Regions from separate parts of the Homo sapiens genome. Here region 2 is linked to region 1. The links come from fine-mapping of genetic effects on gene expression. A gene starts in region 1. The other region holds a variant in brackets. All regions are shown on one strand. Distances are from middle to middle.

What was found. PIP is the estimated chance that this variant, and not a neighbour inherited with it, causes the effect.
Region 2: its variant is the best candidate, but not a certain one, in a credible set for the expression of SLC25A1 in whole blood (INTERVAL, PIP 0.66).

What each region holds. Positions count from the first base shown.
Region 1 is chr22:19,176,406-19,181,777 of GRCh38, forward strand. SLC25A1 (solute carrier family 25 member 1) reads right to left here and starts at 2,331. Exons shown (of 9, transcript NM_005984.5): 1 at 2,175-2,331; 2 at 1,728-1,835; 3 at 1,537-1,636; 4 at 1,322-1,460; 5 at 715-799; 6 at 441-545; 7 at 173-288; 8 at 16-89. The coding sequence starts at 2,268. CLTCL1 (clathrin heavy chain like 1) reads right to left here. Exons shown (of 33, transcript NM_007098.4): 31 at 4,326-4,401; 32 at 3,794-3,833; 33 at 3,068-3,564. The coding sequence ends at 3,814. RefSeq lists silencers at 1,548-2,627, 2,828-2,927 and an enhancer at 1,629-2,376.
Region 2 is chr22:19,210,096-19,215,467 of GRCh38, forward strand. CLTCL1 (clathrin heavy chain like 1) reads right to left here. Exons shown (of 33, transcript NM_007098.4): 20 at 231-414. Among named protein-coding and RNA genes, the nearest start is that of SLC25A1, 34 kb to the left of the region's middle. The variant GAAAGAAAGAAAGA/G (reference allele first, on the strand shown) is at 2,556.

The sequences.
Region 1 (5,372 bases):
CCCTCCCCCACTCACGCCTTGAGCCCCTCCTTCTTCAGGATCTGCAAGCCGCAGTCCCACGTGTTCCGGTATTTGTGCGCCTCCAGGCCCTATGGGGGACATCAGCAGGCAGGGGCTCAGCAGCTAGCTCTGGCCTGGTCCCCCCTTCCCCTCCCCTTCCCGGCCCCACCACCTGCATCCGGGTCTTAATCACATCCAGAGGAGTGTTTCCAAAGACACTGGCTGCGCCTGCAATAGCTCCGAAGACCCCAGTGATCAGAGGGTTCATGGGCTTGTTGGGGTTGTCCCCTGGATATAGGAGGGGTGAGGTGGGTCAGAGGGTGCCGGGAGGGGCCTGGATCAGCACTTCAAAAGGTGGGTGCCCGCCACCCAGGGGTGGCCCCAAGGAGAGGAGAGGAGCTGGCCATGTGCAGAGATGGGGCCCTGTGATGCAGACACACCTCGGTACCAGTTGCGCAGGGAGGTCATGACGAAGAAGCGGATGGCCTGGTTCGAGCCCTGCTTCAGGACAGTGGCTGTGAGGCCCTGGTACGTCCCCTTCAGCCCTGCGGGAAGGCAGGCACGGGGTTACCCTGCAGCCTCTCAGGCCCCGGTTGGGAATTGGTGTGTGTGGGGGGTGGGTGTTGCACAAAGCCCAAGGCAGGATGGGAGGTGCAGGCCCTTCCCACCCTGGCCCAGGTCCCTGAGCCCTATCAGGAAGGTCGAGTGGCTCACCTTGTTCCCGCACAATCTCCCTAACCCCGTGGAAGAATCCTCTGTACTTGGGGTTTGGGGAGGTCTGGTCGTGGATGAACTTCACCTGAGAGAGAGAAGCAAAGGCGCAGGTTCTCGGCTGCCACCTGGGTGGGTCCTGGCTAGCTGGCAGGCCCAGGGCCCATCCAGGGTGGAGGGAACTGGGAACTCTTCCCCAGGAAGCAGTGCAGCCAAGGCCGCCCTGGGCTGCCCACACGGACCATGCCCCGGGACACAGGGCAGCCCACACGGACCATGCTCTGGGACACAGGGCAGCCCTGTGAGCAGCCTCTCCCTTTATGTTTGCTGCTCTTTTCCAGTTTTGGCAGTGAAGGTGTCATTTTGTTTTCTGCTTTATAAAAGTATTTTTTAAAGACTTTAAGGCTGCCTTTAGCATAGACTCAGCCTCCACGGGTGGCCCTTCGTGGCAGGCGTCCTGCCCCAGGGCCCCGCGGTCACCCCGCCGGCCTTCCCTGGCGTCCAGGAGACCCTCCCCAGCTTGCCGGTTGCCCCGGGAGCACCGGGCCAGCGGGGCCGCCCGTCTCCGTACTCCCTGCGTGTCCGGGGTCCTCGCCAGGACCTTCCCCACCTTGATGGTCTCCATGGGGCACACGACCACCACGGCCTCGGCCACGCCAGCGCCCAGGCCGCACAGCAGCCCACGCGTGCTGTCCAGCCGTCCCTGGGCATCCCGCATGTGGTTGCTGAGGAACTCGAACATTCCAAACCTGGAGGCGGGAGGCGGGTGAGAGGGGCTGCCGCGGCCGAGCCCCCCTCCCGCAGCAGCCACCGGCCGGGCCTCACCTGACGGCCGCCTTGGGGATGGAACCGTAGAGCAGGGAGCTAAGGCCGCGGTACAGGCCCAGGACGCCATGGCTGCGAACCGTCTGCCGCACGCAGTCCCCTGGGGGAGGGGGCGGTCAGGACCCCACGGCCCTCGGTGCCGCCGCCCTGGGTACCCGCCCCCCGCGGCGCCGCGGCCTCCCCCTCCTCACCGATGCCCCGGTACCGCGGCGGGTGCGAGCGCTCGTCCAGCTGCAGCTGCGTCTTCACGTACTCGGTGGGGAAGGTGATGCAGATCTCGATGCCACCCGCCAGGCCGCCTGCAGGGACCGGGAACCCGCTCCTGAGACTCCCGCCCGGCCGCTGGCGCTCGGGCCCCTCCCCCGTCCCGGACTTCGGTCGGCGCGGCCGCCGCGCCAGTGCCGCGGGGAACATAGGCTGGGGCCCCACGCCCCCATGCCCTCACCCCGTTGTCCCGGCGAGGCGCAGGGGGTGACAGACGGGAGGCGGGCGAGTCCCAGCGCGCCGGGTGGGGACCAGGACCGCGCCTCCACGACTCCCCAGCCCACGGCCCAACCCGGAAGTGGGGCGGGGCCTCAGCGTCCCGGGCCCACCCAGAAGCGCGGCGGGAGAGGGGTCCGCGTCCCGGAGGGGCCCACCTGCCAGGATCGCCTTCCCCGGGTGCGTCAGCTTGGCCTTCCCGGACGCGGGCGCGGCGGCCGCCAGAGCGCGCGGGGCGCGGGGCGCGGGCATGGCGGGCGGGAGGCGGGGCGCCCTGTGGCGGCTTCGGGTCCGAGACTCCAGAACTCCGCGCTCGGTCCGCGGTGGCGGCGGCGGCCGGTTATGGTCCCAGGGGCGGGGCGGCCGCGTCAGCTCCAGGTCCCGCCCCGCGTGGTCCGAGCCAGGCCCCGCCCCCAGCCCGCCCCGTGCGGGCCGGGAAACTGAGGCCTGGGCGGGGCGCGCCGAGGCAGGCGTAGGGGCGGGGCCAAAGCGCAGCCAATGGCCGAGGCCGAGTCCCTGGGCGACCGCGAGCGGCGGGACGGGGGCGGGGCTGCGGGAGGCGGAGCCGTGGCCCAGCTCCGAGCAGTGGGTCAAGGTGCACTGTGTGCCGCGCCGCGGGATAGCGGGCCTCGGGTCTGCGCGACTGTCGAGAGCGGCGGGATCCCCAGGGATCCCGGAGGCCAGGGGCACACCCTCCCCGAAAACACGTGGGGCTAGCCCAGTCCCAGAGGAACTCTAACGTTTCAAACCTGGAGGCGGGAGGCGGGAGGCCGGTGAGAAGGGGCTACGCCGCCGGGCCCCCCTCCCGCAGCAGCCACGGGCCGGGCCTCACCTGCCGGTTCCCACCCACACCTTTCCCGGTTGTAGTTTCTGCGCTCAGCGAACAAGGTCAGGAAAGACCACAAATGCAAGCGGCTGTATTCTCCTAGGCAGCTTGTCTGGGCAACGGAGGTCCCACACCCCAAAGAGGACCCAGCAAATCTTTAATGGACTGCGGGGCCTAGGAAACTGGCCCGTCCCTCCTACCCATACCAGCACCAAGCAGAGCACCTTTGCCTGGATAAACCGACTTTAATATTTATGATTGCCAAGAGGCTGAGAGTCCTTTTATGAGGTCCGGTACCTCCAAACAAGACGTGTTCATGTAGTCTTCAAACTGGCCTGGAGGGGGCAGCTCCAGCCAGTCGGAGGCGCCCAGGAGGAAGGCCTGGCTCCAGCAGGAGGGCCCACAGTCCAGTCTCTGTTGTCGGCTAAAGCTGGTCTTGCGCCGTCAGCCTCTACCCTGGCCTCCCCAGGCTCTGGGATGGCTCAGAGGTTGCCGTCATTGGGTTTCAGCAAAAATAAATATTGTCCAGGTGTCCCTGCCTCCCATTGCGTCCCCTGTGCTGCTGGAGTGACATGCTCCTTGGAGAAGTTAGTAACTCTGCAGGTAGGGTGGGTGGTGACAACGCCCACTACACGCGGAAGTTGTACATTGGAGGCTGGCGAAGTTGGGAGCAGAGGCATATCCATAGGGGAAGCTGGCAGGGGCTGGGCCCACGGCAGGGCCTGCAGAGGGGGAAGCCCACAATGAGCAGAGCTCTTCCTGCCCATGGGGGTCCTCTCCTGGCTGCCCCTGAGTAGCCCGGGGCCCAGGGAGCAGGGTCTATAGGACCAGCCCTTACCACCCAGACGCTGAGGCCCCAAGAGAGCAGGCATCCAGAGGCAAGGAGCGTGGGGTCAGCCAGAGAACCTGGCCTGGCTAGAGGATAAGCTAGTCTCCAAATGGGACACTTACTTAGTGCAATCAGCTGGGTCTCATTCATGCCCATCAAAATCTAAAAAAACCAGAATGACATTAATGGTGGAAGGACACACTCAGCCGGACGCTGGAGACCCGCCGGCGTGCTGCACACTCACACCACACCCTCAGGCCTGTGTTTGCCCCACAGTGTCCAAGCACCCCACAGCCTCTCCAGTCTGCTCGACAGCCAGGCTGCCCTGGGCAGGTTCTCAGGTGCAAAGCCCCTCCCAGCACACACCAGCAGCAGCCTTGCTGTCCAGGGGCCAGGCCCAGCAGGACACAGCAGTAGTTCACAGCTAGGCAGGCACCCCTATCAGAAGGCAGGCATCCTTACAGCAGGGAGGACAGCGGCCGTGCCAACATTCCTGGGCGTACACTTCTCCACACCCAGTAGCCACTGGGATCCTTCCAGCCCCCACCCATCTATTCCCATCCCCATCCAAAGCCCAGCCAGGTAAGGGCAGTGGGACTTTGACTCCCTCCCTGCTCCCTCCCCAGGGGGTTGGGGGCTACAGGTGCCACCTACCAAACACGAGAGGGGCAGGCTCTGTCACATGCTCCTCTTGCTTGCGCAGACTCTCCAAGGCATCCAGTTTGTCCACCTGCAAGGAGGCAAAAGCACGTGAGCACCCGCTTGACAGAGTGCAGTCCGGCCTCTAGGTGAAAGTGGAGTGGAAGGTCAGGACACAGGGCCTCCAGGAGAATGACAGTGGAGGAGGTGCACATGGGCAGATGTGGAGTGGCTCAGCCCACACCCCATGCACTTTTAGAATGCAGCAAGGCATGGAGAGGTGAAGCCTCGGTAGCTGGGCTGAGATGGAACGCCAGGTGGGGCCCCCAGAGCTTCCCAGTGGGCACTGGGGCAGTCAGTTGTTACAGGCTGTGCATGTGGCCTGCTTATGGGGGGCCAAGTCCTCCTCTGGATACAGGGACACTGCCACTTACCGACCTGCAGGGCTGGGGCCATGTGCAGGGAACACTGTCTGCTTCTGGCTCTGGCCAGTCTAGTTTGCCCGCCCCTCCAAACCAGCAGAGAGATCATGTGGCTCTCAGAGACAAGTCACCTGGCACCTAGACACTTCACCTGAGAAGCACTGAGGACAAACTGCCTCCTCACTCTTCCCTGAGGCTTCACCAGGCACTGACCCCACCCACTGCCAGAGAGCGAGGCGGCAGCACTGCACTAGAGGGGCGGCAGCAACTGTGCAGCTAGGATCCCCTCACAAACACACTGAGTAAGAAAGAGAAATAAGAATGTGCCCCCCATGAGCTGGGGTCTGGGGGGGGCTGAGAAATGAGGAGGAAGCAGGGGGCACACTTGCTGACACCTAGGGTGAGGGCTGAGCTAGGCCTGTACCCTCCCTACAATGGGAGAGCGCTGGGGGCGTCTCAGAGGGATGGCCCTCAAGCTTCCCAGATGAGCCACGAGGCCCCAGGCCCAGCTGTCCACCAGGAAAGGACTGTGCTTCTTGTCCGCGCCCTCATTCTCCCAGCACTGCTGTGTGGTGTCAGCTGAGCACCAGCTCAAGCTGACAATCAGCTCACACCCCCATGCCACTGACTGGGAAACCCC
Region 2 (5,372 bases), 34 kb after region 1:
AGGGAAGGGGCAGACTAACAGCCAATGGAAGGAGCACCCACAGAGAAGGTCAAGACAAGGGGCCAGCGGGCTGGGAAGATGGGTTGCTGGTGAGGAACAGAGAAGAGCACGAAGAGATGCACTGGACAACCAGAGGGTCTGACACCCTTGGAGAGGACAAGGGCTTGCAGGGCGCACTCATGATGTGGCAGAAGGTGCTAGGTCCGACATGCTTACACTCAGCAGCCCACCTGGATTGCTGAGGCATTCATATCAAACTTGTGGAAAACGGTGAAGGCCTCCTCATACAGTGCGCTGCTGACAGCGATGCTCGCGATGTCCAGTGCGTCATAGTTGTCCAGGCGGCTGATGTACTCCATGACCCGTGTGCGGTCTGCCTTGATGGCAGTCAGGATCAACAGATTCTGTAGATTCCTGAGGAGAGAGGGTGGTCAGCACGGCATCCCAGGAACGAAGGCTGCACAAACCATTTTTTGGCAGGTCAGGCATCCCCAGACCCCCAGTTTTTTTAAAAAAGTAATTAATATACACACACATAACTGCTAAGTAAATACAACAGAGTATTTGTGAAGTATTTGGGATCTAAAAAGAAACAGTATAGCAAAGTCTTGGGAAAGCACAGGTAAGAGAATCAGAATGTGCCAATCAAACCACTGGGAGGGCTGCTGTGGCTTTTTAGAGCCCAGCCTCTGGATCCTGCTGTAGAGGTACCTATTTTCCTACCTGTGCTTTCTTTGTGATTCATTATAGCTTTATCACATCTACTGTATTTCTAAGCAATATAGGCAGCTTTGCATTTTTTTTTAACTTTTTAAAAATTTTGAGACGGGGTCTTGCTATGTTGCCCAGCTGGTCTCAAACTCCTGGCCTCAAGTGATCCTCCCACCTTGCCCCCACAAAGTGCTGGGATTACAGGTGTGAGCCACCACACCAGGTCACTTTGCATTTCTTGAACTTTCCTTTGCTTTAATTATAATAGATGCATTCTTGCAAAACTTTATACAATTCAAAAATGTGGAAAAAAAATCAGTGTAACACACCACATATCAATAATCTAAAAAAGAAATACTACATCTTTATCAAATGATCAGAAAAAGCATCTGACAAAATCTAACACCTATTAATGAGAAAAACTCTCAACTAGAAATAGAAGGAAACTTCCTCAATCTGAGAAAGTACATCTACAAAAAGCCCACTGTTAACATCATAAGTAACAGAGTCTGGACACTTTCCCCGAGGATCAGGAACAAGGCAGGGATGTCCACTCTCCACACTTCTATTTGTGCTGGAGGTTCTGGTTAAGGCATTTAGGCAACAAAAGAAACAAAAAGTTTCTTTTCTATAATGAATCGCAAAGAAAGCACAGGCAGCACTAGATTAGGAAGAAATAAAACTGTCCCCGGTGTCTCACGCCTGTAATCCCAGCACTTTGGGAGGCTGAGGCGGGTGGATCACAAGGTCAGGATATCAAGACCATCCTGGCTAACACGGTAAAGCCCGTCTCTACTAAAAATATAAAAAATTAGCTGGGCGTGGTGGCAGGCGCCTGTAGTCCCAGCTACTGGGGAGGCTGAAGCAGGAGAATGGCACGAACCCAGGAGGCAGAGGTTGCAGTGAGCTGAGATTGCGCCACTGCACTCCAGCCTGGGCGACAGAGCAAGATTGCATCTCAAAAAAAAAAAAAAAAACAAAAACAAAACTGTCCCAATTTGCAGCCAACATGATTGATTAAAAAAAACTGAAGAAATCTACAAAAAAAAAAAAATCCAATAAATGAGTTTAGCAAGGTTGTAGAATACAAGGTCAACATACAAAAATCAATTGTATTTCTATATACTGACAATGTTTTTCAATGAACAACTGTAAACAAAAAATCTATTTAAAATACTTCCAAAAATATGAAATAAGTATAAATCTAATAAAATCTACATATGACCTATATGCCAAAAACTATAAACTGCTGATGAAAGAAATCAAAGATCTAAATAAATGGAGAGACATATCACTTTCATAGAATCAACATAGTAAAGATATCAATTCTCCCTAAATTGGTCCATAGATTTCATGCAGTTCCAGTTCCAGCAGATTTTCTTGTACATATAGACAAGCTAATTCTGAAATTTATATAGATAGGCAAAGGAACTACAATAGCTAAAACAATTTTGAAAAAGAATAAAGTTGAGCCCAGGTATAGTGGCTGACACCTGTAATCCCAGCACTTTGGGAGGCCAAGGTGGGAGGAGTGCTTGAACCTCAGGGTTTGAGACTAGCCTGGGCAATATGGCAAGACCCTGTCTCTACCAAAAAAAAAAAAAAAAACAACTAGCCAGGCATGATGGTGCACACCTGCAGCTACTCAGAAGGCTGAGATGGGAGGACTGCTTCAGCCTAGGAGGTTGGGGCTGCAGTGAGCCGTGTTCATGCCACAGCACTCCAGCCTGGGTGACAGAGGGAGACCCTATTGAAAGAAAGAGAAAGAAAGAAAGAAAGAGAAAGAAAGAAAGAAAGGAAGGAAGGAAGGAAAGAAAGAGAAAGAAAGAAAGAGAAAGAAAAAA[GAAAGAAAGAAAGA/G]AAAGAAAGAAAGAAAGAACAAAGGTGGAAGAATTACACTATCTGGCCAATTGATTTTTGACAGAGATGCAAGAGCAATTCCATGGAGAAAGAGTATTTTTAACAAATAATGCTGGAATAAACTGGACATTCATATGCAAAAAGCTGAACCTCACCCTAAACTTCACACTTTATTGGATAATGAATCTAAATATAAAATGAAAAAGAATGAAACTTTTAGAAGGAAATAACAGAAAATCTCTGTGACCTGGGAGTATTAACAGAGTTCTTGTTTTAACACCAAAGCACAGTCCATAAAAGAAAAGTTTATGAATTGGACTTTATCAAAATTATAACTTTTGTTCTGTTAATGACACTATTAAGAAAATAAAAGAAAATCTACAGAATGAGAAAATATATGGAAATCACATATCCAACAAAGGACTTGTATCCAGAATATACAAAGAACTCTGAAAACTCAACAAAAAACCAAACAACCCAATTAAAACACAGGCAACAGATTTCAAGAGACACTTCACCAAAGAGGATCTACGGATGGTAACTGAGCACATAAAAAGTTGTTCATCATCATTAGCCACTAGGGCAATGCAAATTGAAACCACAATGGCACACTGCTATACATTTATGAGACTGGCTAAGATAAAAAAATACCAATATACCAAGTGCTGCTAAAGATGAAGAGTGACTGGAACTCTCACATATTGCTGGTGGGAATGCAAAATGACACAGCCATTCTGGAAAACAATAGTGAGGCGGTTTCTTAAACAGTACATATACCATGTGATTGGGTATGTTTAAACAAAAATCTGGACACAAATGTTCACAGCAGATGTATTCATAATAACCTCAAACTGAAAACCACCCAAACGTACTTTGATGGGTGAAGAGATCCTGTGGTACATTCGTACAACAGAATATCATTCAGTGACAAAAAAGAATGTAAGGCTGATGCGATGCACTCACCAAGTTGGATGAATCTCAAAGGCATCATCACGCTGGGTGAAAGAAGCCTGTCACAGAGGAGTCTATACCACGTGACTCCATTTGCATGACATTCTTGAAAATGCAAAACTAGTGTGGCGGGGTGGTAGCCAGGGTTGGGGGTTGAGGTTTGGGGGAATGTATAATATACACGGTAGCTAGCACAAGGGAATGTTAAAGGGTGATGGAATTGTTTGTATCCCGACTGTGGTGATTCTACAGATCTACACTTGTGTTAAAATTCCTAGCACTGCATTCCCCATCCCCTTCCAGAAGGTCATTTTTACTGTATGGTGGTTTTATAAAAAAGAATTTTAAAGTTGGGTGCTAAGGGTCATCCATGTACAGTGTTCATTTCTACTGCTATCTGGTATTCCACTGTATGACTGTACTACAGCCTACTTATTGATGGTTATCTGGATCGCTCTTAGAGCTTTGTCTTGAGTATCCCTGCACATCTCCTCATACAAATAAGCTGAGTTCCTTTAGGGCTCATAAGGAAGAGAGGAAATTGCTGGCTGTGTGCATCTTTTTTCACCAAACTGTTTCCAAATGTAACGCACATTCCCAGCAGGGGCACGTCAGAGGTCCAGCTGTTCAACATCCTCATCAGCACTGATTAGGAGAGTGGGGTTCCTGCTGCTCTGGCAGGAGTAACAAAGCATCGGATGATGCACTGTGGCCTCACTCTGTGCCTCCTTGGTGGCTGATGAGGCTGAATTCACAAGCTGCCCTTCCTCTCACCGGAGGGTGTGCTCAAGCTCTCTGCTTGGTTTCTCATTGGGTTGCTTGTGTTTGTCTTTTATTACAACTTTTCCCTACTAATTTTTTGTTGGTTGTGTTGCAAATATCTTCCCCGCATTTGTAGCTTCTCATTTGTCCATCTTCTTTACGATAAAGTGCTTAAGTTTAATACAGTCTTATTGGTTTTTCACTAAAGGTTTATTTATGGTTTCTGGTTTCTGTGACTGGCTTAAGAATTTATTAGGTCATAAGTATATTCTTCCAAGTATATACTCTAAAAATAATATATTTTGCTTTTTTTTTTTTTTTTGAGATGGAGTCTCGCTCTGTCACCCAGGCTAGAGTATAGTGGTGCCATCTCGGCTCACTGCAACCTCCACCTCCCAGACTCAAGCGATTCTCCCGCCTCAGCCTCCCGAGTAGCTGGGATTACAGGCACCTGCCATCATGCCTGGCTGAATTTTTATTTTTAGTAGAGACAGGGTTTCACCCATGCTGGCTAGGCTGGTCTCAAACTCCTGGCCTCCCAAAGTGCTGGGATTACAGGCGTGAGCCACTACGCCCAGCCAAGGCTATTTTTACCTACGCATAAAACTGTCTGGTGAAATCATCAATGAAAGAAGAGCACGAACTTGAGGTTACCTGCATGTTTGAGAAGCAAGTGTTTAAGAAGACAGCAGAGCTACAGCCACCTGTAAGTGCCTGGAAGTACACACAAACTAACAACTATCAAAGGAGGTTGATCAGACAGCAAGACAGAATATCGTAGCCACCTCAGGCACCTTAATCCTGGCATCCTGTCATTAGTCAGGGTTTATGATTCCATTAAATATAATTTCACATTCCATATGCCATTACCATATAGCATCTCCAAGTTTAAAAACACACACACAAATTCCTCTCTATAATACTACAGCCCTTGATAGCCTTTCTGGCCTACAAAATAAATCTCATAACTAAATCTTTACAGCTGCACTTATGATGTGAGTTGATTAAAATCTGACACAGAATCTCTGATGGTGAATTTTGAAGTGGAGAGGAACCCCAGGTGGCTGGCCCATGCGGAAGCACGCACTCTT